Linked DNA regions of Homo sapiens: region 2 is linked to region 1. The links come from fine-mapping of genetic effects on gene expression. A gene starts in region 1. The other region holds a variant in brackets. All regions are shown on one strand. Distances are from middle to middle.

Region 1 (14,369 bases):
CGGGCATGGTGGCAACCCGTGTCTGTATTCCCAGCTACTTGGAAGGCGAAGAGGAGAGAATCACCTGAAGCCGGGAAGTCTTGGCAACAATGAGCCATGATCACGCCACTGCACTCCACCCTGGGCAACAGGTGTGTCTCAAAAAAATAAAAATAAAAATAAAATTGGCTGGGCACGGTTGCTTATGCCTGTAATCCCGCATTTCGGGAGGCTGATGCAGACGTTTGAGAGGCAGATGTCACTTGAGTTTGAGAGTTTTAGACCAACTGGCCAACATGGTGAAACCCTGTCTCTACTAAAAATACAAAAATTAGCCAGGCGTGGTGGCGCATGCCTGTAATCCCAGCTACTTGAGAGGCTGAGGCAGGAAAATCGCTTGAACCCAGAAGTTGGAGGTTGCAGTGAGCCGAGATCGTGCCTCTGCACACCAGCCTGGGAGACCAAGCGAGATTGCATCAAATAAAAAAAAAAAAGAAACACAAAAATTGTCACATGGTACCATTTCAGCGCACTAAGATGGCTAGAATTAAAAAGACACAGAGCATAACAAATGTATCTGGGGATGTGGAGAAACAGGAACCCCCGGGCACTGCTGCTGGGAATGTAAAATGACAGACAATTTGAAACATAGTCTGGCTGTTCCTCAGAAGGATAAAAACACATTTGCCATGTAACCCAGCTATTCTTCTCCTTCATACGTATCCAAGAGAAGTGAAAACATAAGTCTGCACAGAAACTTTTGCGTGAATGTTCACAGCAGCGTTATTCAGAATAGCAAAAAAGGGGAAAGAACCCCAACTTCCTTTGAGGGGTGAATGGAGAAACCAAATGTGGTCTATCCACACAGTAGAATATCATTCAGCCAGAAGAAGGAATGAAGGACTGATCCGTGTTACAACACAGATGAACCTCAAGAACAGCATGTTCCGTGAAAGAAGCTAGACACAGAAGATCACGTAGTGTATAATTCTACTTATAAGAAATCTCTGGGAGAGATGCATCCATTGAGAGAGAAAGTAGATAAGCCCAGACGCAGTGGCTCATGCCAGTAATCTCAGCATTTTGGGAGGCCAAGGCGGGCAGATCACTTGAGGTCAGGAGTTCGAGACTCCTTGGCCAACATGGTGAAATCCCATCTCTCCTAAAAATACAGAAATTAGGCCAGGCTGAGTGGCAGAACAAGACTCCACCTCAAAAAAAAAAAAAAAAAAAATTGTCACGTGATACCATTTCAGCCCATTGGGATGGCTGGAATTGAAAAGACACAGAGAATAACAAGTATTGCTGAGGTTGTAGAGACACGGGAACCCTCGCACACTGCTGCTGGGAATGTAAAATGACAGACATTTTGAAAAATAGTCTGGCTGTTCCTCAAAAGGATAAAAACACATTTACCATGTAACCCAGCTATTCTTCTGCTTCATACATATGAAGTGAAAACATACGTCTGCACAGAAACTTGTACGTGAATGTTCATAGCAGCATTATTCGGAATTAGCCAAAAAGTGGAAAGAACCCAAATGTCCTTCGAGGGGTGAATGGAGAAACCAAATGTGGTCTATCCACACAGTAGAATATTATTCAGCCAGAAAAAGGAATGAAGGAATAATGCGTGTTACAACACGGATGAACCTCAAGAATAGCATGTTCAGTGAAAGAAGCTAGACACAGAAGATCACCTAGTGTATAATTCTACTTATAGGAAATGTCTGGGAGAGAGGCATCCATTGAGAGAGAAAGTAGATGAGGCCAGACACAGTGGCTCATGCCTGTAATCCCAGCACTTTGGGAGGCCAAGGCGGGCAGATCACTTGAGGTCAGGAGTTCGAGACTCCTTCATCAACATGGTGAAACCCCGTCTCTACTAAAAATACAAAAATTAGCTGGGTGTGGTGGCACGTGCCTGTAATCCCAGCTACTCGGGAGGCTGAGTCAGGAGAATTGCTTGAACCCAGGAGGCAGAGGTTGCAGTGAGCCGAGATCGTGCCACTGCCCTTCAGCCTAGACAACAGAGCGAGACTCTAAGAAAAAAAAAGAAAAAGAAAAAGTAGATGAGTGGTTATCCAGGGAAATGAGGACTGGCAGTGATGTCTCAGAAGGGCAGAATTTCTCTTAGAGGTGATAAAAATGTTCTAAAATGGGTTGTGGTGATAGCTGCACAGTTCTGTGCTTTGAATTGTACAGCTCAATGAGTGAATTGCATTGCCTGTAAATTGCATCACCATAAAGCTATAAAAACAGGGTACATACAGTCTGGGTGGATCCCAAGATGTCTTCAGATGGTGGCCTTTGAGAGTCATGAGGGGCTAGGGTTGGAGCTGAAGCCTAAAGCATGACTTTTAGCTGGTGCAGGAGTGGCTTCCTTCTGTCTCCCACTACAATTCAGAGGATACTCAGGGAAAGATCTGGACATCCTGTATGTGGAAAGGCGGTTGCGCACAGTGGAATGGACTCCTAAGTGGCAGGCAGGTGACAACCGTTGTCTACTTCACCCAAGGGAAGATTTCTCCATGGAGCGTGTTTTATAGGTTCTGTCTCTCCGAGTCCCCTTTGAGAATATAATGGGATACATTGCATCCATGCTGAATTCCTAAGCCCCAGGACCTCAGAATATGCCCTTATTTGGAAACAGGGTCTTTATGGAGGTACTTAAGGTACAATGAGGTCACTGGGGTGGATCCTACTTCTTTTTTTTTTTTTTCCGAGGGGAATTTTCATTGTTGTCCCCCAGACTGGAGTGCAGTGGCACCATCTCAGCTCACTGCAACATTCGCCTCCCGGGTTCAAGTGATTCTCCTGCCTCAGCCTCCCGAGTAGCTGGGAATACAGGTGCCGGCCACCACGCAAGGCTAATTTTTGTATTTTTAGTAGAGACAAGGTTTCACCATGTTGGCCAGGCTGGTCTAGAACTCCTGACCTTAGGTGATCTGCCCGCCTCGGCCTCCCAAAGTGTTGGGATTACAGGCGTGACCCACTGCGCCCGGCCTAGGGTGGACCCTATTTCAATATGACTGGTGTCCTTTGGAAAGGGGAAAGGGGGACAGTCACACCCAGGCAGAACGTGATGAAGATGAAGATGGCCATCTACAAGGGCAGGAGAAACCTGAACAGAATCCCAGCTCCGGGCCCTCAGAAGGACCCCACGCTGCCCACATTGACCTTGGACCTCCAGCCTGCAGATCGTGAGGGAAGAGACGTCTTCGACTTAGGGCCCCTTGTCGTGGTACTTCCTTAGTTTGGCCCCAGGAAACCATCCCAAAGGCAAGGGCGTGGTTGTGCTCAGCTGGGGGAAGGGGGCTGGGGGCCGTGAGGAGGAGGTGGGAGGCCCAGCCAGGCTGGAGGGTCAGAACCCGTGGAGCTAGAAGAGCCCGTAGGGGAGCCCCAAGATTGCTGAGACCAGTGACCTTCGGCCCCAGATGGCCTTGCCTTGGCCCAGAAGGGTCAGAAGGACCTGGTCAGCCAAGCTCAGACAGCCGGCAGGATGCCTTCCACCCTGCAGAGGGTCCTATCTTGTCCCACAGGTAGATCTACATCACCACTAGCCACCCCTCCAACGTGCACAGGCCCCTGCCCTCACGGCGCCCCTCTTAGGTCCGGCAGTTCCTGCCTCCTTCTGATCCAGAAGTTTCTCTGGCCTCTGGAGCCGGGGCACACCTCATGCAAGGACAGGGTCCAAATTCCTTTGTCCTTGGATCCCACTTGGCTGACGTCACCTTCCTGTACTCAGGGAGTTTCCCCAGCCAGCTGTCCCGAGTCTGGACTTTCCCTCTGCCCCTCCCCACTCTCAGGCTGGTGGGGTGGGGAAAGCAGCCCATTCCTGGGCTCAGAGACTCCCACCCCAGCTCAGAGGGAGCAGGGGCCCAGCCAGGGACGGACCCTCATTCCTCCCAGGGACCCCAGACCTCTGTCTCTCTCGGGTAAGTCTCCATCTCTGTCTGTCTCTGTCTCTGTCTCTGTCTCTGTCTGTTTTTCACGCACTCAGCAAGGCCTCCTGCCCTGAGAGAGGCTCCGCCCACTACCCCCCACTTTCCCCATAAAACCAGCTGAGTATTTGTGCCAGGAAGACTGCGTGCAGAAGGTGACTGTCTCAGTGGAGCTGGGTCATCTCAGGTGGGGAGTTGGGGTCCCCGAAGGTGAGGACCCTCTGGGGAGGAGGGTGCTTCTCTGAGACACTTTCTTTTCCTCACACCTGTTCCTCGCCAGCAGGCCTTGGCTCCTTGAACTTTTGGCCGCCATGTGCTTCCCGAAGGTGAGTGAGAGGCTGCGTGTGCTTTTGTGGGCATGTCTGAAAACAGACCGTAAGGGTGCGGGTGCCCTCAGTATTTCCCGAGGTGCCTGTGTGTCAGGGCTCAGTCAGGGGCACCCAGCGGCAGGAGGATAGTGATGGGGTGAGAGTGTCAGTGGAGGCGCTGGAGGTCATATGTGTCGGGGGCGCTGGAGAACGGCAGGGGTGTGGATGAGAGGGAGCACCTGTCCCAGGAGCCCTTCACAGCCCGGAAAGCCCGGGGCAGGGGTGGGGCAGGGCTCTGCTGGAAACGACTCGGAGAATGCTTCTCTCAGAGGCCGGCTCAGCTGGGTGGGCCCAAGAGCAAGGCCTGTGTGGGTCCTGGTGTCTCTTCCTCCTTTCCTGGGTTCCCTCCGACCTCCCATCCTCTACCACTGCCCCACCGCAAATGCTAGGCCCACCACACCCTCCAGGGAGCTCTTCGGCCTGTGACAATAGGGGTTTCCATGATGTGGCCTGGCTCAGGTTCAGGACAGTGACCCGGAGGACACATGGCTCCCGCATGTCGGCACGGTGCTGCTTTCACCCTGGTTCCTGGGAAATCAGGCTAGCGGGATGGGACCATCGCTGCCTGAAAGTGTGCAGACAGCTGCCCTGCCCAGAATATGTCCCCAGGCCCTGCGCACTCTGTGGGTGACTGTCACCACTCTATAGTGGGGGAAACCAGGCATGTCACCCCCGAGACTAGGCCCTTGACGTGGGGGCTCAGCGGGGATTCTGTGGGGTGCCTCTGGCCTCTGTGGATGCAGCCACGTGTCTGCAGGCAGGAATGGCCCGGGACCTGTGGGTCTGCATGTTGGCAGTCGGGAAGAGTGGCAGGTTGTAGGGTGGACCTACCTGGCACCCCAAATATTAATCAGCTCATCAGAGAGGAATGGCTGCTGTTACCTTCTCAATTGTCATGTCCCTAAACATTTTTTCCTTGGCCAACTCTCACCTGGGACCATAGTGGTTGTGGGAAACCCAGCTGAGCCAGCCTGCTCCAGGACAGTGTCCATCCTCCCGTGTGTGTACATGGGGGGGTGTGTGTGTGCAGGGAGGACACCCCGGCCCACGCAGGCCCTGCTCTTGTGAGGAGGGGTCACCTAGGCCCACGCAGGCCCTGCTCTTGTGAGGAGGGGTCACCTAGGCCCACGCAGGCCCTGCTCTTGTGAGGAGGGGTCACCTAGGCCCACGCAGGCCCTGCTCTTGTGAGGAGGGGTCACCTAGGCCCACGCAGGCCCTGCTCTTGTGAGGAGGGGTCACCTAGGCCCATGCTGGCCCTGCTCTTGGGCCTGCCCAGCTGAGCCGGCTCCTGAGAGAAGCGCTTTCTGAGTCGTTTCGAGGACAGCCCTGGCCGGTCTTTCCAGGCTGTGAGGGGCTCCTGGGACTGCTGTCTCCTCTTATCCTGTACCTCTGCCATGTGTCTCTGTGTGTGTGTGTGTGTGTGTGTGTGTGTGTGTGTGTGTATAAATTATCCTGGAGGAAAGGTTAAGGTGACACATGGAGACTGAGTGTCACCGTTATTTCCGCAGGTCCTCTCTGATGACATGAAGAAGCTGAAGGCCCGAATGGTAATGCTCCTCCCTACTTCTGCTCAGGGGTTGGGGGCCTGGGTCTCAGCGTGTGACACTGAGGACACTGTGGGACACCTGGGACCCTGGAGGGACAAGGATCCGGCCCTTTGGTGCCAACTCTGCCTCTCTTCACAGCACCAGGCCATAGAAAGATTTTATGATAAAATGCAAAATGCAGAATCAGGACGTGGACAGGTGGGTGGATTTCCCCTCAGGCACCAGGTCACATGTCCCCGCCCCCAGGCACTCCACCCTGTGTGGGGCTCAGGGTGAGAAGGATGAAGAGGGACCCACAGGCTCCCTCACCCCTTACCGTGGGCAAATGCTTGCACCTGGGTGGCAGTGAGTGGGCGGGTGGGGGATCTGGACGCCCGGGGAGACTGAGGGAGGCATCCAAGCCCCAGGGCTCCTTGAGGAAACAACAGGGGTGCCAGACGTGGCCCGGGCCCCTGGCTGGGCCCAGTTCGGGGTGTGTGGGAGCTGAGGACTCACTGGGCTTGAGGACTGACTGATGTGGGGTGCAGAGGAGGCTTGGGCCTGGAACCGAGTGCTTTGTTCCTAACAGGTGATGTCGAGCCTGGCAGAGCTGGAGGTGAGCCGTGGCCTCCCCCTCCACCAAGCTTAGTCCCTGGGTCTTAGGCTCCACAGGACACTGGGTCTGGGCCCCGGGTCCCCTTGGGAATCACCTGGACCAGTGGGGGCCACAGTGGGAAGGGGGCAGGCAGGAGCAGCATGAACCCCCTGTGCCCTCCTCTCCCCAGGACGACTTCAAAGAGGGCTACCTGGAGACAGTGGCGGCTTATTATGAGGAGCAGCACCCAGTGAGTATGACACACCCATCTGGGCACCTTGCCTTCCTTCACCTCTGCCCTGTCTTTTCTTTCTTTCTTTCTTTTTGTTTATTTGAGACAGAGTCTCGCTCTGTCGCCCAGGCTGGAGTGCAGTGGCATGATCTTGGCTCACTGCAACCTCCAAATCTCGGGTTTAAGTGATTCTCCTGCCTCAGCCTGACAAGTAGTTGGGACTACAGGCACCCGCCACCACTCCAGGCTGATTTTTTTTGTGTGTGTTTTTAGTAGAGACCAGGTTTCACCATGTTTGCCAGGCTGGTCTTGAACTCCTAACCTTGTGTTCCGTCTGCCTTGGCCTCCCAAAGTGCTGAGATTACAGGCATGAGCCACCGGGCCCAGCCAACCCCTGCCCTGTCTTGATGTGGTGTGGGCAGGGTGTGCCCAGCCCCTGAGCTTGGGGTGGAGGGCTGGGAGTGACAGCCTAGCTGGGACCTGCCCATGGCCTCACTCCTCACACAGTGGCACAGCCCTCAAGGCACGATGAGGGCCCTGACCTGGTGACCAAGCAGACACACCCATCCTGTCACTGCCATGGAGGTGAATGCAGAGGAGGGGGACTCTGGGAAAAGTCCCTCTTGCCCACGGGGCTGTGGTTGGGAAACCAACACCTGTGGGCCTCCGTCTCCCAGGGTCAGGAAAAGGCTGAGAGGCCTGGGTGTGGCCAGGGCCTGGGGCTGACACCCCCACCTACAGACCCTGAATGGTGCTCCCATTCCACAGGAGCTCACTCCTCTACTTGAAAAAGAAAGAGATGGATTACGGTGCCGAGGCAACAGATCCCCTGTCCCGGATGTTGAGGATCCCGCAACCGAGGAGCCTGGGGAGAGCTTTTGTGACAAGGTCATGAGATGGTTCCAGGCCATGCTGCAGCGGCTGCAGACCTGGTGGCACGGGGTTCTGGCCTGGGTGAAGGAGAAGGTGGTGGCCCTGGTCCATGCAGTGCAGGCCCTCTGGAAACAGTTCCAGAGTTTCTGCTGCTCTCTGTCAGAGCTCTTCATGTCCTCTTTCCAGTCCTACGGAGCCCCACGGGGGGACAAGGAGGAGCTGACACCCCAGAAGTGCTCTGAACCCCAATCCTCAAAATGAAGATACTGACACCACCTTTGCCCTCCCCGTCACCGCGCACCCACCCTGACCCCTCCCTCAGCTGTCCTGTGCCCCGCCCTCTCCCGCACACTCAGTCCCCCTGCCTGGCGTTCCTGCCGCAGCTCTGACCTGGTGCTGTCGCCCTGGCATCTTAATAAAACCTGCTTATACTTCCCTGGCAGGGGAGATACCATGATCGCGGAGGTGGGTTTCCCAGGGCAAGGCTGATCTGTTGCCGTATTAGTCCGTTTTCACACAGCTATAAAGAATGCCTGAGACTGGGTGATGTATAAAGAAAAGAAGTTTAACTGACTCACAGTTCCACATGGCTGGGGAAGCCTGAGGAAGCTTACAATCATGGGGGAAGGCGGAAGAGAAGCAAGGCACGTCCTACATGGCAGCAGGAGAAGCAGGGTGGGGGGAACTACCAAACACTTTTGTCCGCGTGTTTGTGTGTTTTTTTTATTTGAGATGGAGTTTCGCTCTTGTCGCCCAGGCTGGAGTGCAATGGGGTGATCTCGGCTCACTGCAACCTCTGTCTCTCTGGTTCAAGTGATTCTCCTGCCTCAGCCTGCTGAGTAGCTGGGGTTACAGGCATGCGCCACCATACCAGGCTAATTTTGTATTTTTAGTACAGATGCGGCTTCACCATGTTGGCCAGGCTGGTCTTGAACTCCTGACCTCAGGTGATCCGCCCACCTCGGCCTCCCAAAGTGCTGGGATTACAGGCATGAGCCACCACACCCGGCTGCCAAACACTTTTAACCCACCAGATCTTGTGAGAACTCACTCACTTACACCAGAAGCGCATGGGGGAAACCGCCCCCATGATGCAATCATCTCCAGCCCGGCCCCTCCCTCGACATGTGGGGATTACAGTTTGAGATGATTGGGGTAAGGACACAGAGAAAATCATCTCATTCTGCCCCTGGACCCTCCCAAACCTCATGTCCTTCTCACATTTCAAAACTCAATCATGCCTTCCCAACAGTCCCCCAAAGTCTAAACTCATTCCAACATCAACCCAAAAGGCCAATCCAAAGTCTCACCTGAGACAAGGCAAGTCTCTTCTGCCTATAAGCCTGTAAATTCAAAAGCAAGTTAGTTACTTCCAAGACACATTGTGGGTACAGGCATTGGGTAAATGTTCCCTTTCCAAATTGGAGAAATTGGCCAAAAAAGGGGGCTACAGGCCTCAGGCAAGACCCAAATCCACCAGGGCAGTCATTAAATCTTAAAGCTCCCAAGCGATCTCTTTGGCTCCATGTCTCATGTCCAGGGCTCACTGATGCAAGGGGTGGGTTCCCAGGGCCTGGGGCAGCTCCGCCCCTGTGGCTCTGCAGGGTGCAGCCCCCGCAGCTGCTTTCATGGGCTGGTGCTGAGTGCCTGCGGCTTTTCCAGGCACACAGAGCAAGCGCTTGGTGGATCTACCATTCTGGGGTCTGGAGGAGAGTGGTCTTCTCACAGCTCCACTAGGCAGTGCCCCAGTAGAGAGTCTGTGTGGGGGCTCCAACCCCACATTTCCTCTCTGCATTGCCCCAGTAGCCGTTCTCCATGACAACCTGTGCGTGGTCATCCAGGCATTTCCATCCATCCCCTGAAATCTAGGCGGAGGCCCCCAAAGCCCAGCTCTTGTCTTCTGCAGACCTGCAGGCCCAACACCATGTGGAAGCTGCCAAGGCTTGGGACTTGCACCTTCTGGAGCGACGGCCTGAGCTGTACCTTGGTCTTCTTTAGCCACAGCTGGAGCTGGAGTGGCTGGGGCACAGGGTGCCATGTCCCGAGGCTGCACAGAGCAGCGGGGCCCTAGGCCTAGCTTGAATTAATCCCCAGGAAATGGGTTTTCTTTTCTACCACATGGTCAGGCTGCAAATTTTCCATCTTTTATGCTCTGCTTCCCTTTTAAGTATAAGTTCTAATTCCAAAGCATCTCTTTGTGAGTGCATGTAACCGTATGCTTTCAAGAAAAGACAGGTGACTTGCTGAATGCTTTGGTGCTTAGAAATTTCTACTGCTGGCGGAGTGCAGTGGCTCATGTCTGTAATCCCAGCACTTTGGGAGGCCGAGGCCGGCAGATCACGAAGTCAGGATGTCGAGACCATCCCGGCCAACATGGTGAAACACTATCTGGACTAAAAATGCAAAAATTAGCTAGGCATGGTGGCACACGCCTGTAATCCCAGCTACTTGGGAGGTTGAGGCAGGAGAACCACTTGAACCAGGGAGTCCAAGGTTACAGTGGGCCAAGATTGCGCCACTGTACTCCAGCCTGGTGAAGGACCAAGACTCCATCTCAAACAAACAAACAAAAAAAACAAGGGACAGGTTCTTGCTATGTTGCTGAGGCTGCAGTGCAGTGGTGCAATCATAGGTCACTGCTATGGATGGATGGACAGATGCGTGCACAGAGGCAGGGATGGATGGACAGATGCATGCACAAACACGCTGAGCGCCTACTAGCACAAGACAAGACATACAGGGTTCTGCTCTCCCCAGGTACACAGGGTTGAGATCCAATGGGAAAGCAGTGAGCCAGCTGAGTCAGGGGTACGAGGAGACACTGAGCAGAGAAATAACCCGGGACATCTGAGGCCAGAAGCCAAAACTATGGCATCAGTAGGGAGACTGCAGAAGGCGGCAGGTCCCGGATCACCAAGGGCCTTGAAAGCATGTGGAAGACTTTGATCAATGGGGGAATCATTAAGGCATTTTGCATTCCGGAACTATCATCAGCTTCAGCAGGGGGCAGGGGGTAGGATAGAGGCAGGGAGGCAGGAAGTTCTCGCAGGGTCCAGGCAAGAGATGGTGGAGTGTGGTCCTGGGGAAGGGGGCAGTGGACGGATCTGAGGGAGGTTCAGTTAGGATGGGCAAGGATTGAGATCTGGCTGGATCCTGGTGACAGGGGAGATGAGGCTGGGGCCCTTGGAGGATGGTGTCCTGGTGCTGTTAATGCAGGTGTGAGAGTGGGAGGAGGAGGAGCAGGCTGGCAGAAGGCAGGCATGAGTACAGGTCTGGGCGGGAGTCTGCAGCGCTCTGGGCTGGCCACACGGGTGGGGCAAGGGAGGTGGAGGATCCTGCCCTAGAGCTTGGTCTCCTCTGTCTGAGGTCAGGTTCCCCAGAGGTGGGGCTCCAGAGGGAAATTCTTGTGCAAGCAGTTTCTCAGGGGCCATGTGCTGAGGGGAATGGGGAGCAGGAACAGCCTAGAAGCTGAGTGAGGATGTGGTCTCAGCTGGAGAGGAGGCTGATCGCATGGGAGCTCTGCAGCAGGGATGGCAATGCCGGGGAGGCCGTCCCGCCTGAGGCCAGGCCCAGCTCTTTGCAGCCCCATATTAACTACATTGGCTGCTGGGGAGCCTGAGTGACGGGGGAAGGGGGCAGCCAGGGAGGGTGCCTAGGCCCTGTGGAGGGCTTGGTAAGGCAGAGGCTGGGGAGGCTGTGTGCCTCAACATTCACATATGGGCTTCGGATGGGCGTGGTGGCACATGCTTGTAGTCCCAGCTACTCAGGAGGCTAAGGCAGGAGGATTGCTTGAGTCAGGGAGGTTGAGACTGCAATGAGCTGTGTTCACACCACTGCACTGCGGCCTGGGTGACAAAGTGAGACCCTGTCACACACACAGAAAAAGAGAATGTGGGCTTCAAAGTTGAATTCAAGTAAGTCAGGGTTCTTCCACTTGTAATGAACAACTTCCTTAACCTCATTGTCTCAGGTTCCTCCCCTGAGAAATGCGAGGAGAACGGCGCCTGCTGGTGGCGGGGGCTTGCCGATGAAATGAGCCATTCACCCATGCCTCTCAGCACAGGGCCTGCCCTGGGCCGCATACTGTGCATTGTCAGCTGCTGTCGGAGCTGGGCTAGTGGCCGCCTTGAGAGCCAGCAGTCCACGGGGGTTGGCGAGCTTCTGGGAGGAAAGGGTGGAACGTGACTGTCAGGTACAGAGCTACAGAGAACCCCAGCATGAAGGAGTAGGTGGCAGGGGAGAAGGACTCAACAGAGATGGAGAAAGACTAAGCCCAAAGGTGATCAACAACAAGAGTGAAGGAGGAAGTGGTCAGCTGTGGCTGGGGCAAAACAAGCCCAGTAAGTTACATTGGCCTGTGTTTGGTCATCCAGGGACAAAGTGACCTTTTTAGTGCCGGTAGGCCCAGTGGGTTGGGGAAGAATTTAGGCGGCAGTGGGCTTAGGCATGAGAGGAGCGGAGGAAGAGAAGATTGAGTTGAGACCACTGGCTGGAGAACTTGACCAGGAAGGGAGGGCAGAGAGCGGCGTGGAGTCGGGGGAGGGAATAGGTCCAATGAGCGTCTTAGGATGAAGGAGTTGTGAGCACTCAGCACAGGATAAGCTGATACAAAGAAAGGGATGGAGGATGGATAGACTGACAGATGCATGCACAGAGGCAGGGTTGGATAGCATGACAGATGCATGCACAGAGGCAGGGATGGATAGATGGACAGAGGCATGCACAGAGAGAGGGATGGATAGATGGACAGATGCATGCACAGAGGCAGGGATGGATGGATGGACAGATGCATGCACAGAGGCAGGAATGGAGAGACAGATGAGTGCAAACAGGTAGGGATGGATGGACAGGTGCCTACACAGAGGCAGGGATGAATGGATAGATGGATGCACAGGGGCAGGGATGGATGGATGGACAGATGCATGCACAGAGGCAGGGATGTATGGACGGATGCATGGGCAGAGGCAAGGATGAATGGATGGATAGATGCATGCACAGAGGCAGGGATGGACAGACAGATGAATGCACAGAGGCAGGGATGTACAGAAGGATGCATGCACAGAGGCAGGGATGGACGGAGGGACAGATGCAGGCACAGAGGCAGGGATGGATGGACAGACAGATGCATACACAGAGGCAGGGATAGATGGACAGATACTGGCACAGAGGCAGGGATGGATGGACAGATGCAGGCACAGAGGCAGGGACAGACAGACAGATGCATGCACAGAGGCGTGTATGAATGGTTGGAAGGATGCATGCACAGAGGCAGTGATGGATGGGTGGGGAGATTGGATGGATAGATGCCGGTAGGTCGTTCTTGTCCTGGAGGAGGTGATCCAGGCTAAGTCCTCACACCGGGAGGGGCAGGAGGCGAGCATGGGGAGATACAGCTGTGTGTCCCAGTGCACTGGAAGTTACAGATGACATCGATGTCCTGTCCTGATGAAACAGGAAACACAATTGTCATTTGAAAGTTAGGGCTGAGGGCCGGGCGCGGTGGCTCACACCTGTAATCCCAGCATTTTGGGAGGCTGAGGCGGGGGGGTCACCTGAGGTCAGGAGTTCGAGACCAGCCTGGCCAACATGGTGAAATCCCGTCCCTACTAAAAATGCAAAAATTAGCTGGGTGTGTTGGTGGGGCGCCTGTAATCCCAGATACTCAGGAGGCTGAGGCAGGAGAATCACTTGAACCTGGGAGGCAGAGGTTGCAGTGAGCTGAGATCACGCCATTGCACTCCAGCCTGGGTGACAGAGGAAGACACCGTCTCAAAAAAAAAAAAAAAAAGAGACAGAAAAGAAAGTTGGGGGCCGGGGCTGGATGAAAGCTTGAGGGGCTGTGGGCCTGGCATGGGGCTGAGGGGAGTGTGCAGGAGCTGCCTGCCAAAGCCTGGGGCAAGGATGATAGGAGGTGCTGGGGCCCCTGTGGACTGCCCTCTGAGAATCTCGTGAGGCTGGGTCTGCACAGCTGTGGTTGTGTAACTTCCCCCAGATGCATGGTGTGACAAGGGTGCAGGAAGGGGTGCAGGGCCCGGAAGCTCAGTGTGGTTAAAGACATGCAAGGCAGGATAGAAGGTGAGAGATGAATGATATGGCCGTGATCAAAACACCAAACTTCAGTTTCTCAGAAAAAGGACTCAGAGCAACAAGAGAACCTACAGTCAACAAGGACATTCATCAGCGCACATGTGATTTGAGCAAGACCATTGAAGCCCCTGCTGAACGGCAGGCTGGCAGAGCCAGGGTACCTGGCCATCTACCTTGAAGTCTCTGTGCCTCAGTTTCCTCCTCTGTAAAATGGACATAGGGGACAGGTTTGGTGAGAAGTGAATGAAAACGTGTTTGCTACCCCTCTTAGGACTCATGTTTCATGCTTAGATGCTCAGCTAGTGGTTTTAGGGACCGAGAGAAATTTGCTTTTCAGTTCACCAGGTCGTTACCTATGAACCTGCCCTGAGCAGTGCTGACCTTAGTTAGAGATGGCCATGAAACTCATCCGCATGGGGTAATTGGGGCCTCCCTGTGGTGCTGCAGGGCTATGTCTCTGTCTTGGTCTCTTCAGGCCTCTCAGCAGCTGGAGCAGGAGCTGGCAGGCAGCTCACCGATGGATAAGGAGCTGGGCTTTGGCCAGGGCTGACATGGGAAGCGTCTCGGTCCTGCCGGTCCTGGCGCCTGAGCTGAATCCGGAGGGAAGAGGCTGCTGTGGTGGGAACAGGCTGGGAGCCAGGCCTGGCGCTGGGGCCGGCAGGCTGTGTTCTGAGAGTGCCTGCTAGAGGAGCTCTGTGTTCCCAAGGAGATGGAGGAAGACCTGGGGTGGGGGTGGTACAGGGTAGGGAGAGGAGGGGCAGAGGC
Region 2 (17,069 bases), 110 kb after region 1:
CTGAGGGCTCAGGGGGGGATTCTTTTTTTTTTTTTTAATTTTTATTTTTTCTGAGACAGGGTCTTGCCCTGTTGCCGAAGCTGGAGTGCGATGGTGCAATCATAGCTCACTGCAGCCTCAGCTTCCCGAGTAACTGGGACTCCAGGCGCGCGCCACCACGCCCGTCTAATGTTTAAATTTTTATTTTTTGTAGAGACGGGTGTCTCGCTATATTGCCCAGGCTGGTCCCCAACCCCTGGGCTCAAGCGATCCTACCCCCTCGGCCTTCCAAAGTACTGGGATCACAGGCGTGAGCCACCGAACCTGGCTAGGGAATTCTTCTTCAGCCGAACAGCAGCGGCAAAGGCTAAGGGTCCTAGAAAGGAACGGGAAACCGTCACCTGCCCAGGTGGGACGCGAGGCAAGGAACCCAGCGCAGGAGGCCGCTGGGTCACGGAGGTTTCCTGTCTGCTTCCCGCCGTCACTGCCGGCCGCCTCCCACCTTCTCCCGGCCCCCTGCAACCCAGCCCACCCCAGCCCACCTCCCCCTGGTGGGGACACGGTTTTCTTTCCGGGGTGCCTCGCAGTTCCTGCAGTCCCTCCCTCTTCCCCACCCCCACCCCCATCCTTTGGGCAGGAGTCACAACAATTTCTTGCTCCAGTTTGGCAGCTGCGGCTCTGTGCCACACCCTCCAACGGGGCTGGATGCCCAGGGTCTGCTGCCTCCATGGGATCTGGCTGGGCTCGAAGTCGGGGCTCAGCAAAGGTATTTCGTGTGAACGAGGAATCCACGGGTCAGACCCGCTTCCACAGCCCTGAGTCGGGGCGGGTGCCAGGGCCAGTCACCCTGACACTCAGGAGGTGCCGGCCTGTGGGGCGTCCGCGGGTGGGCCTCTGACGCAGAGAAAGACCCAGATCCAGCTACCTCGGGGGCCTCCTGCTGCGCCTCGCCTTTGGGGCAGGCCTGAGGGCAACGCTTACTGCGGAGCAACTGTGTTCTACAGTGTAGTCCCGACACTGAAGACTCCTGGTCCTGGACTCTGCTGTAATCTAGAAATCCACTAAGGTAACGTTGGCGTGTCGCCCGGCTAGCTCAGTCGGTAGAGCATGAGACTCTTAATCTCAGGGTCGTGGGTTCGAGCCCCACGTTGGGCGATTCCTTTTTACTGCGAGCCTCACCCGCAAGGATAGCATTGTGAGTTTCTGTTCCAACTGGGTCAATTTTCTTCTCTCAGCCATCTGCCCCTGGCGATGCAAGATTTGGTGAAAGCAGATGCCTGCTCATCCCAGGAAACCATCCTGGAGTGGGGTTTCACTACTCCTGACCTCAGGTGATCTACCTGACTCAGCCTCCCAAAGTGCTGGGATTAAAGACGTGAGCCACCGCGCCTGCCCTGAATTTCCTCTTCTTGTAAGGACTCCAGTCATATTGGATTAAGGCCCATCCTAATAACCTCATTTTGTCTTAATTACCTCTTTAAATACCCAGTCTCCAAATACAGCCACATTCTGAGGGACTGAGAGTTAGAACTTCAACATATGGATGGTGGACAGTCACAACTCAGCTCATTAAAGTGAACATTGTGTACATGGTTTAGTATGAACATATGTCTTAAATTTCCTTGAGCATAGGAGTGGAATTCCACTTAGGAATGGAATTTTGGGGTCATTTGGTAGTTCTGTGTTTAACATTTTGAGGCTATTATTCACAGTGGCTGGATTATTTTATATTCCCACCAGCCTGACTGAGGGCTCGTGTCCTAGAAAAGTAGTAATAGATTTACATAGATATTTTGCATCAAAAAATATTTATTCTGAGATTATACTTAAAAACCAGGAAACAGGCTGGGCGCGGTGGCTCACGCCTGTAATCCCAGTACTTTGGGAAGTCAAGGTGGGTGGATCACGAGGTCGGGAGTTCGAGACCAGCCTGGCATGGTAAAACTTCGTCTGTACCAAAACCACAAAAATCAGCTGGGCGTGATGGTGCGCGCCTGTAGTCCCAGCTACTGGAGAGGCTGAGGCAGAAAAATCGCTTGAACCCGGAAGGTGAAGGTTGCAGTGAGCCGAGATCGCGCGCCACTGCACAGCAGCCTGGGCAACAGAGCGAGACTCCGTCTCAAAAAACAAAACAAAACACAACAAAAAACAAATGGAAACAATCTACTTGCCCCAAAATAGGGCATAGATTAAATGAAATTATCATAAATCCAAAATGGAGGATAATGTCATAAAAAATAATGTTATATAATGATGATCCCATGTGTGTAAAACTCTAGAAAATGCAAAATAATACAGTGACAGAAAGCAGAGAGTGACGGACTGCCAAAACTTACCAAATTGTACACTTTTTTTTTTTTTTAAATGGAGTCTCACTCTGTTGCCCAAGCTGGAGTGCAGTGGCGCGATCTCGGCTCACTGCAGCCTCTGCCTCCCAGGGTTAAGCGATTCTCCTGCCTCAGCCTCCCGTGTAGCTGGGAACAGGCACGTGCCATCACACCGAGCTACTTTTTGTATTTTTAGTAGAGACGAGGTTTCACCATGTTGGCCAGGCTGGTCTCCAACTTGTTAGATATGAGTTCCAAATTTCTTTTCAAAGATTCAATATGTCAGTATGTTCAATTCTTTACCTTCTACTTTTAAACTTAACTTCCTCATAAAGCAACCTTTTTCAATTACCTACTCCACCCTGACTCTTTCGATTACCTGCTCTGTAATAACCATTTTTCCCGCCAAACCATTCGCTCCGTCACTCTCTTTAAATTATCCAATGGCAATTAGTTTAGCCTGTGCGGTCTAACCCTAGCCAATAGGGGAATGACACAGCAGCAGGGGCCACGTGCGAAAGGGATAAGAACCCCTTCCCCTCCCTTGTCCAAGTGTGCTCTCACCATTGCTCCATCTGTAAGGGCGCACCCTTCTATAGAAGTACCTTGCCTTGCTGAGAATTAAAAACAAAATTTTATATTTTCGGGCTATTTCTTTTGCGGCACCGAAACTTTGTATATAACAAACTCCTGACCTCAAGTGATTCGCCCACCTCCGTCTCCTGAAGTGTTGGGATTACAGGTGTGAACCACCGTGCCGGGCCTACAACCGGCAATTCTTGATCCTTCACACCGACTCTCGCTGTCCTCCAAGATTTTTCCTCTTTACCTATAGAGTCTCCAGGACTCGATCCCCAATCCCTTGCAAGCCCTGCAGGGAAACTGGAGGGCACTGGCTTCCCCACCTTTACTCCCCACAGTTGCTCCTCAGGACCACAGGAACGGAAGGGACCAAGCCCCTAACCTAGAATGTTAGTGATTTTAGAAGGAAAAAACTTTGGGCTTATTCAGGACTAGAACCTGAGATCTCTTACGCCTTATGTGAAAAGCATGCCTGAATCAGGCTTGACGGCACATTCCTATAATCCCAGAACTTGGGTAGTCTGAGAAGGGAGGATTACTTGAGCCCAGGAGTTCAAGACCAGGCTGGGCAACCAAGAGGGACCCCATCTCTACTATTGCTACTGCTACTACAAAAAATAAATTGCCAAGAATTGTGGCTCAGCCTGTAGTCTCAGCTACCTGAGAGGCTGAAGTGGAAGGACTACTCGAGCCCAGAAGGTCGAGGCTACAGTAAGCTGTGACTGCATCACTGCACTCCAGCCTGGGTGACAAAGTGAGACTCTATCTCAAAATTTCAGAAAAAGCAAAATAGAAAAGCAGGCCTACTGATCAGTGCCTCTTTCTTTTCCTTCCTTCCTTCCTTCCTTCCTTCCTTCCTTCCTTCCTTCCTTTCTTGAAACGCAGTCTCGTTCTTGTCACCCAGGCTGGAGTGCAATGGCATGATCTTGCTTCACTGCAACCTCTGCCTCCTGGGTTCAAGCGATTCTCCTGCCTCAGCCTCCCAAGTAGCTGGTATTACAGGCGCCTGCCACCATGCCTGCCTAATTTTTGTATTTTTAGTGGAGACGGGGTTTCACCATGTTGCCCAGGCTGGTCTCGAACTCCTGATCTCAGACGATCCACCCACCTCGGCCTCCCAAAGTGCTGGGATTACAGCCTTGAGCCACTGTGCCCGGCCCAGTGCCACTTTCCTCAGTGGGCTCCAAGTGACCTTACAGCTTGACCTATCTCAGAAGGCCAGGTCTGGATTTTGAGTGGTGTTCCTTGCAGCAGCATTAAGGAGCACACCCGAGGAGTTGTGCCAATGTATTTTTCATTATAAACTATCCTAAATAGGCTGAGTGAGGTGGCTCACACCTGTAATCCCAGCGCTTTGGGAGACCAAGGCAGGCAGATCACCTGGAGGTCGAGAGTTTGCGACCAACCTGACCAACACGGAGAAACTGCATCTGTACTAAAAATACAAAATTAGCCGGGCGTGGTGGTGCATGCCTGTAATCCCAGCTACTTGGGAGGTGAAGGCAGGAAAATCGCTTCAACCCGGGAGGCGGAGGTTGTGGTGAGCCAGGAAGGTGCTATTGCACTCCAGCCTGGGCAACAAGAGCAAAACTCCATCTCAAAAAAAAAAAAAAAAAAAAAAAAACTATTCTGATAAACCGGCCGGGCGCGGTGGCTCTCGCCTGTAATCCCAGCACTTTAGGAGGCAGAGGCAGGCAGATCACCTGAGGCCAGGAGTTCGAGACCAGCCTGGCCAACATGGTGAAACCCCATGTCTACTAAAAACATACAAAAATTAGCCGGCCGTGGTGGCGCGTTCCTGCAATCATAGCTACTCAAGGGAGGCTGAGCAGGAGAATTCCTTGAACCCGGGAGGCAGAGGTTGCAGTGAGCGGATATCCCATCACCACACTCCAGCCTGCGTGACAGAGCGAGACTCATCTCAATCAGTAAATCAATCAGTCAATAAACCTCACTGCCCCAGGAATGCCGACACCAAGTCAAGCAGACCTTCTCTTCCCTGCCGTCCGCTTCCCTGACCTGCTGGGGTTGGGAGGGCACATTCTGTGGCAGGTTGACTGGGTTTCCATGTTTCCATCCCAGCTCCTCAATTTTGTCTGAAAATGCAATAATAAGAGTATAGTAGTGAAGATTAAACGAGTTTAGATAAGTAAAGAGCTTACAAGAGTGTTAGGCATGGTGAGCCTAATAAGCATTAGCTACGTCTACTGCTAATGTTGAACATCCTAATCTCTGCCCCCTGGGTCACCGTCACCAGCCTCACAACTCTGCAAGCAGGTACCAGCAGCACCACGCTGGCCGTACAAGCAGAGATCCAGTGAAATCTTGTATGCACCCAGAGGGTCCGGGTGGAGGGAGGTTGGGTAACTCAGGAGACCACAGCTGCTCCCTCCGGCTGCACTGGGCACTTCTGGGAGGATCCGGCACCCACCTCCCTGGGCTGGAGGCCTCTAATCAGAGAGGAAGGCAGGAAAGCCAGACACTGGGACTGTCAAACTAGTGAACATTGGGATCTCTATCCCCCTCTACTTGATGGGACCTGAGTCAAACTCTACCTGACATGACCCCCTGGGGATCAGCATCTGGGCAGTGTTGCTGGACAAGGGTGGAGCCAGGCATAAGGACGATGGGAGATAAGCAGAGAAAGGTTTTGTAGGTGGCTCCTTGTCCAGGCTATGATTGTTGCTTAGGGTACAAGAGAGTCCAATCCTGTACAAGCTAAGGTTCTCAGACTTTCTTCTGTTTTAATGAGGACAGCCCTGTTGGGATCCCAGAAAAGGAAAACCCTAGTGGGGGTCTTCCCCAGGGCCTCTGCTATCAAGGAGCGAGGAATTACTGTTCTCCTGGTCTTCCAGGTAGGAACCGCATCCATGGGGCAGGAGCCAGGATGGCTTTCTGGAATAAGCAGGGGAGGGCATAACCAGACATTGGTCACTTTAAATCTTCTGCTTGAGTTTCTTCTTTCACCAAGTCTTGCATTGCCAGGGGCAGAAAGCTGGGAGAAAAAGATGTACCTTCATGGTACAGCAAAAGGCACGCCCAACGTGCGGCTCGAACCCACGACCCTGAGATTAAGAGTCTCATGCTCTATCGACTGAGCTAGCCGGGCTTCCTTATAGGATCTTTTCCATATCTACAAATGGGCCGAGTGGCCTAAGGGTGGTGGAAACAAAGGGAGGTAATGAATCACCCCGGGAAACCAGGGCGCGCTTGGGGTCCCCCACAACAGACTCAGTTCGCCACCGACGTCCCCGCTAGTGCAGGATTTCCCTCACCACCCCGCAATCTCCCATAAATGGGGGTGACCTGCCAGAGTCTCCTTCGTCACCGCGCCGGCATATATCTGTGTTCTCCCAGTCCGTGCCCTCCTCTGAAAAGGCCTTCTTTCAGAAAGAGAAAAAACATTCTCAGACTGCGACTGCACGCACTTAAAGAGTCAATGACAACCTTGGCAACCCTTTTTTTTTTTTTTTTTTTTTTTTTGAGGCCACTTGAGTTACAGGGACAGGAGAGTTCTGCTGTGTATGGGCCATCCTTGCAGCTGCAGACAGAAAGCCCAAAGCTCACTGGGACTCACAGAAGCCCTCGCAGGTGCTGCTCCGCACTGTAACCTACTGTGGCGTGCATCTAGTTGTTCCCTTTCCATTACCGTGTGCTTCTATATCTAGAACTATTTGGTTCTTTTTTCAATCAAGAAGGTTGGAGGTCCTGATGTCAAAGATATTTTCTTTATTGCCTTTCATTTCTTTAGACACAGTAGGGACAGTTGTATTATAAGTCGGATACACTTTGCATCTGAAATATTTGCAATATTGTTTCTGTTCCTGTTAATGAGTTGTTGCTCCTGGTACCTTCTTTCCTTGTTAATTTTTAGGGTGCAATGTCCATTTTCCTTGCAAATTTCTTTGTGTAGGAAATTCTGTGAGATCTGGAATACAAATGTATTTGTCCACACACACACAAAATTATTGTTTGCTTCTGCAGGGGCTCAAGGGCATAACCAGACATTGGTCACTTTAAATCTGCTTGAGTTTCTTTCCACTTGGTCCTCAAGCGCTCAAAATTGGATTAGTCACGACTCTTGGTTCCCGGCATGTTCTCAAACCCAGCATCCCAAACAAAAAGGAAGACTCTGCCAATAGATTCTGTCCTCAGAGTAGATGTGAGGAGGCCCCAGTCCTGGTGGGCGCTGGGACTCAGGACGCAGATACCCGGGTTCCTGGGTTCAGTCTGTACCCCTTCCAGAACTAGGATAGGGGAGGAGAGGAGCCCCAGAAGGCTACACGCAGGTGAGGAGTGTCGGGATGTGGGGAGGGAGAGGACTCTAGACCCCAGATACAAACGCCCATAGCCCATCTCCTCTGCTCAAGTGCCCGGCTTTCTCTCCTTAAGGCTCTAGCCGCCGGAGCCAGGGACACTGGGTGGGAATCCCAGTGTAGAGCTTTTAAGGTGTCTGACAGTGAAGACTCGGCTCTTACTGTATATAGGAAGGACTTATCTCTTCTTCAGTGCCTCGAATGAATTCCTACTGACAAAAGTAGCTCATAAATAAAAATAATAATAAAAGCAGAAAACAAAAATAGCAAAATATCAAACAAAAATATTAGGGAATAGGGCTCTGACGACAGTGGTGAGAAAACTCCAAATAAATTTTAAATGTGGCAGTGGGTGGTGTCAGACAGCTTTAGATCTTTGTACAAATTAACTTCGAAGTCTGAGCGCGGTGGCTGACGCCTGTAATCCTAGCACTTTGGGAGGCCGAGGCGGGCTGATCACCTGAAGTAAGGAGTTGGAGACCAGCCTGGCCAACATGGCGAAACCCTGTCTCTACTAAAAAAAAAGTACAAAAATTAGCCAGACATGGTGGCACGTGCCTGTAGTCCCAGCTACCTGGGAGACTGAGGCAGGAGAATTGCTTGAACCCAGGAGGCGGAGGTTGCAGTGAGGTGAGATAGCACCACTGCACTCCAGCCGGGGCGACAGAGACTCTGTCTCAAAACAAACAAACAAACTAACTTCGAAGGACTCGGGCTGCGCTGACCTGTCAGAGCTGTCTGGATCTCTGATCTTCATCTAAAGTAGGAAAGGGTAGAAACCGATATTTTGGACCAAAAACCGGGCTCGTCCGGGATTTGAACCCGGGACCTCTCGCACCCTAAGCGAGAATCATACCCCTAGACCAACGAGCCACACGCCCCGTAGCCTCCGGCTTGTCTTTGTGGCCTTCGTGGAGTCCTCGTGGCCAGAGGTGGGGACCCAGCAGAGCAGAGCTAGGAGGAGACTCCGATTTCCTGAAGTCTGGAAGAGACAAGTTCAAGCGCGGGTGGACGCGGAGGGAGCCCTGAGCCCCCGCTTCTCCCTGCGCCGCACAAAATGGGGAGCATCCCCTGTGCCCCCACAATCCGGGGCCCCCCGGGCCCTCGCCCGCCTCCGCCTCTCAGCCCTGGGCTGGGGATCCGCGCGTCACGCCGCGTCGCGTAGTGAGGAGCTCCAGCTCCGGCGGGACATGGGAACCTCTCAAGAGCTGGCAGCGGCTGCGCGGAGGGTCCGCGAACCGCGACCACTGGACGCCCGCCTTGGAAACGCTGCAGCCCGGCGGCGTGGTGCAGATGGGTGGTCAGTAGAGGCCTCGCCAGTGCACCAGGAACCAGCCACCAGGCCCCCTACCTCGACGCGCCCCACGCTTCTCCCGCTCCGGTCCTCTCTTCTCCCCCAGGGAAGCCAAAACCCAGAAGGTGAGCTTCCCACGTGGAACCTCAATTCAAGAGGCTGACACTGAGCGTCGCTTCGCTCCACCAGACCCGCGGCGCCCGCCGGAGTCAGCGATGTACCCCCTTCCCTTTCACTGGGGGAACTGGCGGAACCTCCGGTCACCAGGACGTGGGGAAGCAGAGGCCGCTTGGGGCAGCAGAGGCCGCGTCCAGGTGTCGGTTCCGGGGCACCTTTTACTGTCACTCTGTCCTTCTCTGTGTCCAAATTTCACCCGGAGCCCGAGAATTCGGCAGGTCTGGACTGAAAACGTCTCCCCATCCCCTCCGGATCCAAGCCTCGAATTTCCTGGCTCAGTGGGAAGGCCTCGGGGTCTGGGCGTGGAGACGGGGCCCGAGACCCCCACCCCGCCAGGGCCCACTAAAGTGCTGCCAGCTGAGCCCCGGCCTTCGCCCCTCCTTCGTCTCTCCCTCATTCCCCTCCCTCTGACACCCCGCCACATACATTACTCCCCGCAATACCATGCAATTTTAAGCTAGGGTAGGGCTCACCTGAGACTGGAGCCGCCATACCGTCGAACCCTACGAAAAATTTATGCCCGTAAATAAACAAGCCCGGCGCATTCTTCCTTATTCTAAATAACTTCTTCCTGCTGCACGGGGTCGTCTCCTTTAACCACGGCTACCGCAGTTGGTAGTGCTGGATCCCATTTCAGGGTGATGGGATGCTGGATCCCATTTCAGGGTGATAGGACCGACCGCAAGGCGAACGATTCAGGCCCGTCCGTCTGCGTCCCGGGACCCCGGGAGGTCTCCACTGACGCCCTGCCAGCAGCAGGCTCCCTCCGCCTTCCTAGTCTCCTGTCCTTGCTGAAAATGCGAAATGGGAAAAAAGAGAAGGAAAAGGGGGCTCGTCCGGGATTTGAACCCGGGACCTCTCGCACCCAAAGCGAGAATCATACCCCTAGACCAACGAGCCGCCGCT[T/TC]CCCCTCTGTTTTGTTGTTGTTGTTGTTGTTTTTTGACACGTCCTTCCGCCCCTGACGCAGAGCGAGACTCTCTCCATCGCCCCAATAGCTCAGTCCTTAGCGCGCGCACCTGCGAATCTGGGCTTTTGGGTTCGCGGCCACCCTCAGATTTGCGAGGCAGGCTTTACTGCTGCTGGATAAACCAACCAGGTTATCCGTTGAGGTTATGAGCTGGTGGTTTCAATGTCGTCCTGATATGAAATATAAGTGCATTTGCCTATCACTAAGGTAAAAGGATTTCCAGGCAGGATAGTGATGTCAGAAATCACAAAGGAAATGTACAGATTTTACCCAAGTTTTTAAAACGGCAAATGACAATCCAAAGAAAATACAATCTGAATGACAAATCAAGGGCTTATTACCGGGCTTCATAGTTTTGTTTTGTTTTGTTTTGTTTTGAGACACAGTTTCGCTCTTGTTGCCCAGGCTGGAGTGCAGTGGCACAATCTCGGCTCACTGCAACCTCCGCCTCCTGGGTTCAAGCAATTCTCCTGCCTCAGCCTCCCGAGTAGCTGGAACTACAGGCTTGAGTCACCACGCCCAGCTGATTTTTGTATTTTTAGTAGAGACGGGGGTCTCACCATGTTGGCCAGGCTGGTTTTGAACTCCTGACCTCAAGTGATCTACCCACCTCGGCCTCCCAAAGTGCTGGGATTACAGGTGTGAGTTTGAGACCAGCCTGGGCAACATAGTGAGACCTCGTTCGTACAAAAAAATAAAAATAAAAAAATTAGTCGACAAGACATGGCGGCTCACTACTGTAATCCCAGCACTTTGGGAGGCCGAGGTGGGCAGATAACCTGAGGTCAGGAGTTCCAGAGCAGCCTGGCCAATATGGTGAAACCCCATCTCTACAAAAATATGAAAATCAGCCAGACCTGGTGGCAAACAGCTGTAATCCCAGCTACTCAGGAGACTGAGGCAGGAGAATTGCTTGAACCTGAGAGGCGGAGGTTGCAGTGAGCCAAGATCATGCCACTGCATTCCAGCCTAGGCGACAGAGCAAAACTCCGTCTCAAAAAAAAAAAAAAAAAAAAAAAGTTAGTTGAGTGTGGTGGCAATCACCCATAGTCCCAGCTACTCAGGAGGCTGAAGTAGGAGGATCTCTTGAGCCCTGGAGGTGGAGGCTTGCAGTGAGCCATGTTCATGCCACTGTCCTCCAGCCTGGGTAACAAACCCTGTCTCAAAATTATAATAATAATAATAATTTGGATCTTGGATAGAGGCATACACAAAGGGAAGATGGTATGAAGGCCCAGGGAGAAGATGGCTGTCCCCAAGCCAAGGAAGGAGGTCTCAGCACCAACCAACCCTGCCCATACTTAGTCTCAGACTCCAGCCTCCAGAATAGTGAGAAAATAAATTTCTGTTATTTCATCCACTCAGCCTATGGTACTGTTATGGCGACCCTAGCAAACTAATACAGTATTATTCAATAATACTAAATATTATTCTGTCATAATTAGGAATGAATTATTGACATATGCAACAAGGATGAACCTTGAATACATTATGTTAAGTGAGAGAAGCCAGACATGAAAGACTGCTATTGTATAATTCCATTTATATCAAATGTAGAGAACAGGCAAATGCGTGGAGACAGAAAGCATACTAGTGGTTGCCAGAAGATTGGAGGAGGGAGGAACAGGGAGGACTGCTAATGGGTACTGCATCTGTTTTGGGCTGATGAAAACATTCTAGAACTAGATAGTAGTGACTGTTGCACAATCACATGAATATATAAAAACCACTCAATTACACACTTTAGTGAATTTTATGGTATGTGTAGTATATCTCAATTATCAATATACTGAGTCAAAGCATATGCCAAAATTGGAGAATTCAGACATATAGCTATTCCCCACTGGCTTCTGTGGTAAGGCTATGAGATAAACTAGGCCTAGAATGGAATTGATGCAGCGGGCAGTTCAGAAAGTGGGGAAAGAAACTTTGCTAGTGAGGTGAGTGGTTTTTCATGTTTATTGGCCATCTGTGTGTGTGTGTGTATGTGTGTGTGTGTTTGCTTTCCTTTTTCTGTGAATTACCTGTTGGTGTGCAAAGACAGCTGTTTACGTGGTTCTCTAGCCAGACTTTCCAGGGCACTTCCTGGCTGTGTGAACTTGAACTAATTCCTTAACCTTTCCAGGGCTCCAGTTGTGTCATCTGTAGACATGAAGATAATGGTGTACTCCTCGTGCATCTGCTGAAAACAACATGAGGCTGGGTGCAATGGCTCACGCCTGTAATCCCAGCACTTTGGGAGGCTGAGGCAGGCGGATCACCTGAGGTCAGGAGTTTGACACCAGCCTGACCAAAACAGAGAAACCCCGTCTCTACTAAAAATACAACAATTAGCCTGGCATGGTGGCACACGCCTGTAATCCCAACTACTTGGGAGGCTGAGGCAGGAGAATCTCTTGAACCCAGGAGGCAGAGGTTGCGGTGAGCCAAGATCACCCCATTGCACTCCAGCCCGGGGAAAAAGAGCAAAACTCCGTCTCAAAAAAAGAAAGAAAGAAAACAGCATGAGTTAGTTCATGGAAACCAGCAGAGTCTAGTCCCTATTCAGTAACTGACGAGAATGAGCAGTTGGACTCTATTCTGTTTCCTTTTTTTTTTTCTTTCTTTCTTTTTTTTTAGACAGGGTCTCACCCTGTCAGGCTGAAGGGCAGTGGCGCAGTCTGGGCTCACTCTAAACTCCATCTCCCGGGTTCAAGCGATTCTCGTGCCTCAGCTTCCTGAGTAGCTGGGACTACAGGCACGCGCCACCATACCAGGCTGATTTTTGTATTTTTAGTAGAGACAGCGGTCTGGCATGTTGGCCAGGCTGGTTTCGCATTCCTGGCTTCAAGTGATCACCCGCCTTGGCCTCCCAAAGTGCTGGGAATACCGGCGGGAGGTACCGCGCCCAGCCTCCTTCACTTTTCTGTGACTTCCAGAGCAGACAATACATAAGACACCGGGAGAGATGCCTGCAGGTGAGTAGACAGGGTTCTCCTTGGCTTCCTTTGAGTCTCAAGGAAGTCACTGAAGCAGCGGGCCCAGCTGCCTTTTACGCCTCACGCCAGCCTCCAGACACACCCATTGCACCATGTACTGCTACTTGGCAAACTTTGTCACGGAAATCCAATGTTTCCAGTTTCTGGGTCCCGAAACTCTTCCCATGCAAGCTCTAGGACAATCTCTTTTTCTCCAGTCTCCACTTCAAGGCTCAGTTGTTTTCCACCTATGGCCCTTAGGGCCAGCCCGAGGCTACACTTGCCAGCCAGAGAGGCTGCGGCAAGCAGCGTTTATGCTCCATAGTCCCAGGTGAGGAAGACGAAGCCTTTTTTGTCATAGATCTTCATTTCTTTTCTTAAATGTCTTTTAAAAATATGCCTATGTAATTTTTTAAAGGATTCGAAATCTATGTAGCCCAGTAATAAGCCCTTAGTTTGTAACTTCGATTGTATTTTCTTTGGATTATCATTTGCCGTTTTAAAACCTTGGATAAAATCTGTGTATTTCCTTTATGATTTCTGACATCTCTATCCTGCCTGGAAATCCTTTTACCTTAGTAATAGGCAAATGCACCTATATATCATACCAGCACGACATTGAAACCACCAGCTCATAACCTCAGCGGGTAACCTTGTTGGTTTACCCAGCAGGAGTAAAGCCTGCCTCGGAAATCTGAGGGTGGCCGCGAACCCACAAGTCAAGATTCGCAGGTGCGCGCGCTAAGGACTGAGCTATTGGGGCGATGGAGAGAGTCTCGCTCTGCGTCAGGGACGGAAGGACGTGTCCCCCACCAGAAAAAGGAAAAAAAAAAAAAAAAAAAGAAAAAAGAAAAAAGGAAGCGGCGGCTCGTTGGTCTAGGGGTATGATTCTCGCTTTGGGTGCGAGAGGTCCCGGGTTCAAATCCCGGACGAGCCCCCTTTTCCTTCTCTTTTTTCCCATTTCGCATTTTCAGCAAGGACAGGAGACTAGGAAGGCGGAGGGAGGCTGCTATTGGCAGGGCCTCAGTGGAGACCTCCCGGGGTCCCGGGACGCAGACGGACGGGCCTGAATCGCTCGCCTTGGTGAAATGGGATCCAGCGCTGCCAACTGCGGCAACTGCGGTTAAAGGAGACGACCCCGTGCAGCAGGAGGAGGTTATTTAGAATAAGGAAGAATGCGCCGGGCTCATTGGTCGCTACAGGGGCATAAATTTTTTCTAGGATTCCAGAGTATGGCTGCTCCAGTCCCAGGTGAGCCCTCCTCCGCTTAAAATTCCAGTTTATTCGGAGAAGGGGAGAATACCGGAAGCGGGGGAGAAGGGAGGGGAGTGAGTGAGAGGAGGGAGGCGGGGAAGACCGGGCATCCGCGGGCAGCACTTCAGTCGGCCCTGGCGGGGTGGGGGTCTCGGCCCTTGTCCCCACCCCCAGACCCCGGGGCCTTCCCACTGAGAGCGAGGGAATTCGCGGCTTTGATCTGGAGGGGACAGGGAGCCCCTTTTAGCCCAGATCTGCTGGATTCTCGGGAGTCAGGTGAAATCTGGATACAGGGAAGGGCAGAGTGACAGTAAAGGGTGCCCCGGAACCGATGCCCGACGCCTGCTGCCCCACGGCCTTCATTCTTGCTCCTCCTCACGTCCTGGGGACTGGAGGTCCCGCCAGCTCCCCCCAGTGAAGGGCAAGGGGGCGCATCGCAGAATCGCCCCTGGTGCGCAGCGTAGTTGGTGGCCTAAGCCGTCTTCTCCGAGAGCTCAGCCATCCTGGGCACTTGAGGCCAGGCAGGCGCTGCGGGGCTGGTTCAGTCGATGGAGAAAAGAGACTCTCAGCGTCAGCCTTTAGGGTTCGAGGCCCACGTGGGAAACTCGCTTTCTGGGTTTTGGCTTCCCTGGGGAGAAGGGAGGACCGGAGCCGGAGAAGCGTGAGGTGCGGCGAGGTAGGGTGCCTGGTAGCTGGTGTCTCGTGCACTCCGTCAGGCCTTTATTGAACACCCATTGGTGCCACGCTGAGGGACTGCAGCGTTTCCAAGGCGAGCTTGCAGTGATCGAGGCTCGCAGACCCTCAGCGCAGCCGCTGCCTGCTATTGGGAGGTTCCCATGTCCTGCGGAAGCTGGAGCTCCTCACTGCGCGCCTCGGAGACGCCGAATCCCCAACTCAAGGCCGAGTGGCGGTGGCGGGCGAGGACCCAGGGCCCTTCTGGATTGTGGTAGCGCCAGGGCTGCTCCCCATTTTGTGCGTCGCGGAGGAGGGGCCGGGGCTCTGGGCTTCCGCCACACCCATCCTCACTTGAAATTGCCCCTTCCAGGCGGGTCTGAAATAAGATTCTACTCACTGGGTCCTGCTGGGTCCGCCCCAGCCGCCCCCAGGATGCTAGGACGCCCACAAAGATAACCTTAATGCGTAAATCGTGTGGCTCGTTGGTCTAGGGGTATGATTCTCGCTTAGGGTGCGAGAGGTCCCGGGTTCAAATCCCGGACGAGCCCGGCTTTTGGTGCAGGGTAAAAGTCGTTTCCTGCTCTTTTTTAGATTCGGCTCGACTTACAGACCTCAGCGCAGGACGTGGACGCCCTGCAAAGGTAATTTGTACAAAGGTCTCAAGCTATGTTGACGCCGCCTACTATCCCACTACCTCTTCTTAAAATTCATCTAGAGTCCTGTCACCAGTGTTGCCAGAGCCCTTTTGACAAGCTATTTTTTTTGTCGTTTGTTTGGTTTTTGGTGGTTTTTGTTTTGTTTTGTTTTGTTTTTTGTTACTTCTGGCAGTGCAAACTCGAGGCACCGAAGAAGAGACAAGTCCCTATATACAATAAGAGCCGAATCTTCACAGTCAGACGCCTTAAAAGGTCCAGCCTGGGACTCCCACCCACTATCCCCGGTTCTAGCAGTCGCAGTCTTAATGAGAGAGTGAGCCAGGCACTCGAGCAGTGGAGATAGGCTATGGGTGTTTGCGTCTGGGGTCCAGAGACCTCTCCCTCCCCACATCCCGTCACTCCTCACCTGCGTGTAGCCTCTTGGGGCTCCTCTGCTCCCCTGTCCTGGTTTTGGAAGGAGTACGGACTGAACCCTGGAACCCGGGTACCCCGTCCTGAGTCCCAGCGCCCACCAGGACTGGGGCCTCCTCTGGTCTACTCTGAGGACAGATTCTATTGGCAGGGACTTCATTTTTGTTTGGGACGCTGGGTTTGAGAACGTGCTATGAATCAAGAATCAAAGAAATTTACAAGGAAAATGGACCCAGCACAAGGAGGCAGGGAGGCAGGGCTCACGCCTGCAATCCCAGCACTTTGGGAGGCTGAGGCAGGTTAATCACCTGATGTCAGGAGATTGAGACCATCCTGGCCAACATGGTAAAACCCTGTCTCTACTGAAAATACAAAAATTAGTCGGTCATGGTGGCGGGCGCCTGTAATCCCAGGTACTAGGAAGGATGAGGCAGGAGAATCGCTTGAACCCCGGAGATGGGGGTTGCAGTGAGCTGAAATGGCGCCAGTGCACTCCAGCCTGGGTGACAAGGTAAGACTCTATCTAAAAAAAAAAAAAAAAAAAGACCGCAAAACAAGGTATCATGAACAACAAGTCATCAACAGTAGGCAACAGAAACAAAATTGCAAACATTTTGGATGCAGACTATTGGGAAGTCTGTAATACAATTATCCTTAGGAAAGGCAATAAAGAAAATATCTTTGACAACGGGACCTATGTAAAATGCTCTCCTTTGAACCTTCTAGATTGAAAAAACAACCAAATAGTTCTAGATATAAAAGCACACAGTAATGGAAACGGAACAGCTACATGCACGTCACAGTAGGTTACAGTGCGGAGCGACACCTGCGAGGACTTCTGTGAGCTCCCAGTGAGCTTCAGACATTCTGTCTGCAGCTCCAAAGATGGGTTAATTTGCCCGATACACAGCAGAACTCTCCTGTTCCTGTAATTCGAGTGGCCTCCAAAAAGAGGTTGTCGTTGACTCTTTTAGGTGCGTGCAGTGTGGGTATGTTTTTTCTCTTTCTGAAAGGAGGACATTTCAGCGGACGGCAGAGAATACAGATTTATGCCAGCGCCCTGCGGAAGGAGCCTCTGGCGGGTCATCTCCATTTATGGGAGATCGCAGAGCGGTGAGCAAAGTCTTGCACCAGCGGGGATGTCGGGGTGGAACTGAACCTGTTGTAGGGGACCCCCAGTGTGCCCTGGTTTCTGGGGCTGATTCATTACGTCACTTAGTTTCTACTATTCTCATGCCACCCCGCCAATTACTAGACATAAAACGTTCCCAGGGAAGCCCGGCTAGCTCAGTCGGTAGAGCATGGGACTCTTAATCTCAGGGTCGTGGGTTCGAGCCCCACGTTGGGCGACTTGTTTTCTTCCTTGCTACCTTGGAGTTCTGGAAACAGCCAGCATTTAATGAACACTACCAGGTGCCACATCGCGCTCTGTGATGGTATCCCCTCAATGATTGAATTTTGGTCTCCGCGCGCT

Evidence for each region. PIP is the estimated chance that this variant, and not a neighbour inherited with it, causes the effect.
Region 2: its variant is fine-mapped to the expression of IL32 in whole blood (INTERVAL, PIP above 0.99).

What each region holds. Positions count from the first base shown.
Region 1 is chr16:3,061,578-3,075,946 of GRCh38, forward strand. It overlaps IL32 (interleukin 32), which reads left to right and starts at 4,063. Exons shown (of 7, transcript NM_001376923.1): 1 at 4,063-4,110; 2 at 4,207-4,249; 3 at 5,800-5,838; 4 at 5,977-6,036; 5 at 6,407-6,433; 6 at 6,603-6,662; 7 at 7,413-7,953. The coding sequence starts at 4,235. The coding sequence ends at 7,778. It also overlaps the pseudogene RNU1-125P and the pseudogene LOC107984896. RefSeq lists enhancers at 3,557-3,866, 6,205-6,724, 13,305-13,424, 13,495-13,584, 13,705-13,754 and a silencer at 12,941-13,124.
Region 2 is chr16:3,174,630-3,191,698 of GRCh38, forward strand. TRK-CTT5-1 (tRNA-Lys (anticodon CTT) 5-1) reads right to left here and starts at 5,997; the gene lies at 5,925-5,997. It overlaps TRP-AGG2-7 (tRNA-Pro (anticodon AGG) 2-7), which reads right to left and starts at 8,077; the gene lies at 8,006-8,077. TRP-TGG3-4 (tRNA-Pro (anticodon TGG) 3-4) reads right to left here and starts at 9,575; the gene lies at 9,504-9,575. It overlaps OR1F1 (olfactory receptor family 1 subfamily F member 1), which reads left to right and starts at 13,575. Exons shown (of 4, transcript NM_001370640.6): 1 at 13,575-13,850; 2 at 15,120-15,169; 3 at 16,609-16,708. It also overlaps TRK-CTT2-5, TRP-TGG3-5, TRP-AGG2-8 and TRK-CTT4-1. RefSeq lists enhancers at 805-1,316, 1,240-1,289, 7,827-7,936, 8,507-8,766 and silencers at 1,030-1,129, 8,317-8,386, 9,767-9,826, 14,974-15,133. The variant T/TC (reference allele first, on the strand shown) is at 9,582.